3 separate regions of the Homo sapiens genome follow, and all the other regions are linked to region 1. The links come from fine-mapping of genetic effects on gene expression. A gene starts in region 1. Each other region holds a variant in brackets. All regions are shown on one strand. Distances are from middle to middle. Region 1 holds the start of IL18RAP (interleukin 18 receptor accessory protein). Region 2 overlaps SLC9A4 (solute carrier family 9 member A4). Region 3 overlaps IL18R1 (interleukin 18 receptor 1).

Region 1 (2,500 bases):
CCTATCCGTGGCATTCTGCAAGGCGCATTGCACAGAACCCCCTTTCTTTCTTCCATGAACACGCCTTGCTCTCAGCAGACAGCCAGGTCAGCATCAGCAGCCAGGTGGTAGCATCCTGTACTTTCCTGTACTTTCTGGCTCCACCTGGACAAAGTGGTCTGGGCAGACTTTCCTTTTCACCTGCATGGTTCTACCTGCCTCTTGTCCAAGATTAATCTCCCCATGGTATCAGGGACCCCACTTCTTCTGGCTTCCTGGGAGAAAGCAGTCCATGCACCCTCTCCTCACTCTCACTTGTATTTGTCCTCACTGACCTGCTGACGCATTCCCCTCGCAGTGGAATCCTACCCAAGGCCCTCTCATCTCCAGAAATGAGCAAACACTTCCTCCTGTCTTCCTGCATCATGCAGACTCTAGCAGGCGTGGTTCTTCCCCGCTTCCCACATTCCCTCTACTCCTCTCTCTCCACCCTGAAGCTCTCCGTTATCTCACCCCAGCTGCACATGCTGAGCTTTTGGTGGCCAAACCAAGACTCTTTGGTGGACACTTTTCAGTCCTTCTCATGCCCAACTCCTCTGCAGCTTCTGAAACTGATGTCTAGTCTCTCCTCCAAGCTTTCTCTGTCTGGATTGCCAAGGTGGTCTCTCTGCTCTGCTCCTTGCATTCCTTTTAGGTTTGTCATTCTTTATTTTCCATTAGCCCTGGCCTACTTTTAAAGGTTGAGGTTCCTCAGGGAAGTTCATCTGCCCTCCCTTATGGGGCAACAGAAACAATCCAGGCTTGTTACAGATGCCCCAGGCTCCCTCCAGCTGCTGAAACTGAGACCCTGCTCTGAGCCATATGCCTCCCCACCCCTCTGCCCTGGGAATGCTCCAGCTGGATCCCCAAGATATTTCAAGTAAGTGGTTTGAAAGGTCCCATGACTGCCTTATCAAGAGAGGGGACTCAAGTCCTTTGGACACAGCCCAGATCTGATTCTCTGGAGGGGACCTGCTCCCCCTTTCATATTTGAGAGTTGATAGTGGTGCCATCCAGTGACAATTTTCCCTCTTGCATGTGGGGCAGGGAGAGGTAGGTGGCCTCTATTCTCTAATAGAATAGACTAGTATATGCAAACATTCTCAAATTTTATAAATAGGAGCTATATCTCTAGCTTTCCTAACCGTGAAAAATCTGACAGTTTTATTCAACTTGGGTCATTTTTTCAGGAAAAGTTAAACATAACTCTTTTCAAATTACTCATGGAAATACACATGCTAGGTGAGCACATCAAAGAAAAAAGATTAATGAGGGGAAAAATGGCATTAAAAGAACACACTGCATAGAGCCTAGGGATATTGGGAGCTTGAGATGATTTGTAAGAAATGACACAAGTGAAAAGGTTGCTACACACCATTGGAAATACTCACGTAAGTTATAGGCAAGTGAAGGCCGGTTTGGGTAGGACCTGCCCTTTCAAAGCTTCCTGTGTGAGATGCACTTTGTTCACTGGTTCTGACTTCTTCATTTCCCATTTCTTGATTTACAGAAATGAAGGGGATACTCAGGGCAGAGTTCTGAATCTCAAAACACTCTACTCTGGCAAAGGAATGAAGTTATTGGAGTGATGACAGGAACACGGGAGAACAATGCTCTGTTTGGGCTGGATATTTCTTTGGCTTGTTGCAGGAGAGCGAATTAAAGGATTTAATATTTCAGGTAGGGGTTTTCACTTTTCATGTTAGCACTGTGAGTCTGTGGTCAAGTGTAAAGTGATGGATAACCTGATATATCAGCAGTGTGATATATTAATACAAACCTTTCCATCCTACTATTAAAAGGGGACTGAGAGGAGAATTATTAGGGTGAACAGCTTTCAGCTGATACCAAGCATTGTCGAGGTACCCTGTTACTGTAGTTGAGTGTTCAGTGAGATCAGCTGACGAGGGATGAGCCAGAGTTCTACCATCTTTTCCAGGAAACCAGGGCTGCTGCTGGTATGCTGGAGTCCACTGGGAGGGAATTAGAACAGGCACTTCCTTTCCCCTACAAAATAGACAGTGAAGAAGAAAGACACACAAGGAAGCTAGATCTCTTGTTAAATCAAGTACTAGATGTAAATATAAGCTAGAATTCCATTTTCTAATGTGTTTCCATGTGCTTTGTTTATTATGATTTTCAGGTTGTTCCACAAAAAAACTCCTTTGGACATATTCTACAAGGAGTGAAGAGGAATTTGTCTTATTTTGTGATTTACCAGAGCCACAGAAATCACATTTCTGCCACAGAAATCGACTCTCACCAAAACAAGTCCCTGAGCACCTGCCCTTCATGGGTAGTAACGACCTATCTGATGTCCAATGGTACCAACAACCTTCGAATGGAGATCCATTAGAGGACATTAGGAAAAGCTATCCTCACATCATTCAGGACAAATGTACCCTTCACTTTTTGACCCCAGGGGTGAATAATTCTGGGTCATATATTTGTAGACCCAAGATGATTAAGTATGATCCAAATA
Region 2 (2,854 bases), 76 kb after region 1:
CATGCTGAGTTAAATAAGCCCGAAAAAAGGAGTTCATAATTTATTATTCAAACTGTATAAAATGCAAATTAATCTATTGTGACAATAATAAATTAGAGATTTCCTGGGGCCAGGGTCGGAGAGAAGGATGGACTTCAAATGAATGAGGAACCTTTCAGGGTTCTTGGGATTTTTCTATATCTTGACTATGGCGATGGCTTTATGAGTATCTACAATGCCCAGAATTCATTCATTTTAGATGCAGTTTACCATATGTAAGTCTTTCCTCAATAAAGTTAACAAGAAAAAAAATGTCAGCACATTTGGAATTGACTCTTCATCTCTGCTGAGCCCTGGTCGAAGGACTAATGTTTTTAGTCATTGTGTGAGTCTCTGTGTGTTAAAAGGGCTTTGCAAACTTTTACAGTGGCATCAGCTAAAGGATCATAATTATTATAATGTTGGAAGGCTTGGAAAATCTGTTAAAGGTAACAAAAAGGACCGTTTGCTGAGACAATGAGTGAAGAGGAAAAATCTAACCTTGTTCTCCATGGGGCTGTGGACATGTTTGAGATTTAGCATTGGCTGAGCTTTTCCCTTCAGTGTATAAAAGACACACACACATTATTGTGACTTGAAATGAACCCAAAGAAAATCTTTTGCAACTATAATGTTACCCAGAGCCTGGTAATTTGAAAGGTAAGAACTGTTTTTCGTGCAGTAGTAAGGATTGTGATTGTAAATGCAGTCTTCTTAATTATATGTACTACTTTAGCTTCTGAAACTGCCATGGCATCTTCCTGGCAGGGCACACTGGTGTCCAGAGACAAGGCTGGCCCAGTTGACTTTCCCAGGCCATTGGGACAGTCTGGGTAGCTACTAATAATCTAACAAGCTATGTGAAAGAGTTTTAGTTTGTGGCAACAATATTCAAATCTTTGAGTCTCGGTCATATTCTCTGAGTTTCCTTTGGATTTGAGAGTCAAATAAACAGGTTCCACTTAACCTCATTCAGACTTTCCTTTTCTGGGATTGTGGGGAGTGTGTGACTCCTCACTGTGGCTTCACTCCTTTCAGTGTGAGCTCAACTCCAACAGTGCAATACTCAGGCCTTCTAAGACCCATATGTGGCAGAAAGTGAAATTGGACAAACAAACTCACCGAGTCAAGACACAACCACTGAGATTCTTTTGGATTCATTCAAAATCATATGTCACATTTTTTTTCAAATACTCAGCCCAGGTTTTCTTAAAGCATGGCTTCAGTTTGTTTAAATAAAATAGACCAGGATTTTAGCAGTTTTGTAAAGTGTGATTGATACACAAACAGACCAATAGATGTTGTCCAGGTCCTTCATGGATCAGACACTCAGAGTGCATTAAATGTACAAGAGTTTTACTAAAGAAACTCCTGTGAGGGAAAATGGGGAAGAAGCCCAGGGGGATGGGAGAGCCCTCAGGTCGCAGTGCAGAGTGATTCCAGGGGAAGGAGAGAGGGAAGGACAGAAGCTGGATGGGACTGTCTTTGCTGCACTTCTTAGAGAGTTTATTAAGCTCATCAGGAACCCACAGGCTGAAACACGTATCCAAGGAGTCCTTTGCCTTCCAGGAAGGGGCCTATCTCAGTGTCCCTGCCAAGCTCAGGCCTTAGCTGAGAATGGCAGATGGGCATCCCTGCAGTTAGAGATCTGAGGGGCTCTGATGGCCCCAGATAGAGAGATGGATGATAGACAGCAGATGGATAGATGATATATAGATGGATAGATAGATAGATAGATAGATAGAATTAGAAAATACATATCTGTAGTAGTTTTCTCTAGGAGGGATTGTGGGACTTTTGTGGGGGTTTCCCTTTGCTCTTTTGTTT[C/G]TGGACAATTTCTACACTTTTTCATGTATATTCTTAACCAAATTCAGTTTAAGATCTCTGCAAGTCTTTCTCTTTTTAAGTAATTCTTTTCCTAATACGAGAAATTCACAATGTTCATGGTATGTGTGTGTGTCTGTGTGTCTGTTGCATGTGTCTGTTGCTTGTGTGTCTGTTGTGTGTGTCTATTGCATGTGTCTGTATGTTGTGTGTGTACTTGCTTGGACCCATTGGCACCAAGCTTTCTGATTCTTCTTCATCTTCCCCAGCTTCCTCTCCTCCCAGAAAATACACTAGAAACTTATCTTTGAGGGAAGAAGGCAAGCCTATTATAACCTTCTGCCCACATTCCCTTATCTAAACATGCTTATTGGCTACTGGTTACTTATTACATTGAACAGTGAGCACTAATTTATACACTCAAAACCTGCATCCTAGGCTCTCTTAAGAAACATGATTGAACCATTTGGGGAATAAGCCAGAGTTTAAGACCTTGTAAAATTCAAAATAAAATTATTTGTGCTCTGAGAGATTTATAACGAAAACTTCTAGTCTGTAACACAAGTTAATTTCACAGTATGGTCATTTTGTTTATAAAAGCTGTACTGGCTGGAATAGTGTCCCCTCAAAAATCCATGCTCACCTGGAACTGCAGGATAGGATCGTAACTGGAAACAGTGTCTTTACAGTTATCCTTATTGAAGGCGAGCTCGCACTGGACTATGGTGGGCCCTAATCCAATGCCTGATGTCCTTATAAGAAGGTGATATGACACAGAGGAGACACACAGAGAAGACCAGGTGAAGACGCAGGCAGGGACTGGAGTGATGCACTCACAAACCTAGGAACGGTGAGGACTGCCGGCAGTCACCAGAAGAAGCTCATAAGAGGCAAGGAAGGGCCCTCCCCTAACGCCTTCAGGGGGCGCGTAGCACTGCCGACATCTCGAGTCCAGACTCTTAGTCTCCACAACAGTGAGAGGATACATTTTTGTTAATTTGAGCCACCTAGC
Region 3 (2,500 bases), 38 kb before region 1:
CTTTGTTGAAAATGACCATATTTCCATCCACTTGTTTATCTTTTCCTCTATTTTCTTTCAAACAGTTACAGTTTTTAATCTGCTAAATTCAGCATCTGTAGGTCTGCTTCTATTAGCTGTCTTTTCTATTGATTATGGTGCACATTTTCTGTGTCTTTGTATGTCTCTTAACTTTTTATTGTTGTTGATCTTTATGTATCAAACAATTAAAGTGAATACAGTTTGTGTTATTTTTTCTTACAAGTAGGTAGCCTGAGAGTTGAGTATCTCAGTTGACTCAGAATTGAGTTGGGGTGGCTGGGATGTAGGTATGTTCACTCCAATCTGTCTTCATCTCTGATAGCTGGTGAGGGAGGGGGTGCTGCAGTCATGTGTTTGATGCAGGCCTCTTCTCTAATGAGACTTGCTCTCCTGATTACCATGAGACTGCAAGTGATATCATACAGCCTTTACATCCTTTTACGCTGTCCGAGCGCTTAGCAGTAATTCTGCAAGCCTGTGCAGCTGCCGAGAGCTTCACTGGATTTTCTTGTTTCTATGAGACTCTTTCTGTTAATTACAAACCAAAGCAAATTCTTCCATGGAATGAAATGGCCACCTATCTTAGCTCACCCTAGAAAGGATCCTTCTTAAGTACGCTTGTAGTTCAAAAATTTCTCTTTATTTTCTCTGTACTTTGATGTCTTTAATGTTTGCTTAATTTAATTTTTTTGTGATTTATCCATTTGGTTTATCTAGAAGTCTCAGTGAGAGTATTGTCCTGATGCTACGAAAAGAAAGTACACTGATCACTCTAAGTTTTAATAGTTGATTAAAAAATAAATGTTTAAAAAGAAGCCAAATCATGTTTTGATGATGACTTGTAATTGCTACCTATTTCTTCTGCTTTATATATTTTGTTTTATTTAAAGCAAGGCATATTTATTCTCTTTCTGGGATGGAGCACCACGTTTTGCTTTAGGTTAACATACATTGATTATATTGTTTTGAAACTTTTAAGAAACCTGAGTTTCAAAAATCAGAACTTTAGTTGCCAACTTTTACCAGGAAAAAACGTAAGGCTCAACTGCTCTGCTTTGCTGAATGAAGAGGATGTAATTTATTGGATGTTCGGGGAAGAAAATGGATCGGATCCTAATATACATGAAGAGAAAGAAATGAGAATTATGTATGTATGTGTAATATATATGTCATGATATATACCATATAACAATCATATATATTATATATAACATCATATTAAAAACACTGGGTGGCTGATGTGTATTTTGGGCTAGTTTAAATTATAATTATAATGGACATATTTTATAATTATAGTGGCCATACCCTAGGTGGACGCATTATGCAGAAATGTATTGC[C/T]AAGATCTAAGCTGGAAAAGAAGGTCCATGAGAAGGCCATTGAGGGTATTTAGCATCACCTTATAAAGTAGCACTTGGTCAGTCAGGATCCGATGGGGATGGGGATTTTACTTAGCTTCTTAGAAAAGGGCAGTTGCCTAGGCCAAGCTTTTTTTTATTTTGAAAAATTTGTTAAGTTGTTTATTTTTCTAATGGGCCAAAAAGGCTCCAAATGGCATGCATATTGATAGTTAAATAAGCCTATATTCTTCCATTAAGGAATGGTCAAACTTATAAAAAGAATCAGTCTAAACATATAGTCACCTAAGCTTTTCTGAATGACTTTGGGTCATACTGTAAGTATTCATTATTATACTGATACACTACTCAGGGTCTAGTGAGTGCTGAGCCTAAGTTGTCTACCACCTTTGCTGCACTTGTTGAGTTTTTTCTTCTGCTTTTTACACATTTTTTGGTACCTTCTTTGTTACCATGCTTGCAGCTCTACATTCTTGCTGACACTTGTCTACAAGCTCTTTACACCACAAAGTCTGGCTTCTTGCCCGGGAGCAGGCATGTGGTTCATGCCCACTACATGTTGAATTCATTTGAAATTTGTGGATCTCCTGCCATCATATCTCATCCTCAGCCACTGGCCTCCATTTGAGTTTTGTATTTCTCCCTTTGGATAATCTCTTTCTAATTTTTAGAGGGGTAGAAAACCACAGTGAATTTCTTAGAAATGCAGCTTAAGCTACAAAAGCAGAGAGGTCTTTCTTTATAGTTGGGTGCACACACCTTTGATATCATCTGTTTTGTCCTCTCAATGGCCTCCTGTGTTTTACTTCTGGATTTCATTGGTTTTAGATGGTTGTTATTTCTGGATGGGTGACTTAGGAAAAGAATTACATTCCAAAATGTACTTGAGGCAGTTGGAGGCTACAGTGGGGCTCTGTGTCCCGGGTCCTAGATATCCCTGTTGCTAGGAATGTGGGCACATGGGGCCCATGTCTGGCTGTGTTGACTGGTGTAGCTATCAGAGCCTGTCATTGGTGGGGGAAGTGGATGTCATAAGTGTTTACCTGGCATCAACCACAGGACAACTTGAATCCTTTAAGGAAGAGAAAAAGAACGTGCTGCCAGTGGCTTTCTCAAGTCATTT

Evidence for each region. PIP is the estimated chance that this variant, and not a neighbour inherited with it, causes the effect.
Region 2: its variant is the best candidate, but not a certain one, in a credible set for the expression of IL18RAP in whole blood (INTERVAL, PIP 0.86).
Region 3: its variant is the best candidate, but not a certain one, in a credible set for the expression of IL18RAP in whole blood (INTERVAL, PIP 0.82).

Annotation. Positions count from the first base shown.
Region 1 is chr2:102,421,650-102,424,149 of GRCh38, forward strand. It overlaps IL18RAP (interleukin 18 receptor accessory protein), which reads left to right and starts at 1,511. Exons shown (of 10, transcript NM_001393487.1): 1 at 1,511-1,698; 2 at 2,162-2,486. The coding sequence starts at 1,629.
Region 2 is chr2:102,497,556-102,500,409 of GRCh38, forward strand. The region is part of intron 2 of SLC9A4 (solute carrier family 9 member A4); the gene reads left to right. Among named protein-coding and RNA genes, the nearest start is that of SLC9A4, 26 kb to the left of the region's middle. The variant C/G (reference allele first, on the strand shown) is at 1,846.
Region 3 is chr2:102,383,831-102,386,330 of GRCh38, forward strand. IL18R1 (interleukin 18 receptor 1) reads left to right here. Exons shown (of 11, transcript NM_003855.5): 7 at 1,048-1,168. Among named protein-coding and RNA genes, the nearest start is that of IL18R1, 29 kb to the left of the region's middle. The variant C/T (reference allele first, on the strand shown) is at 1,360.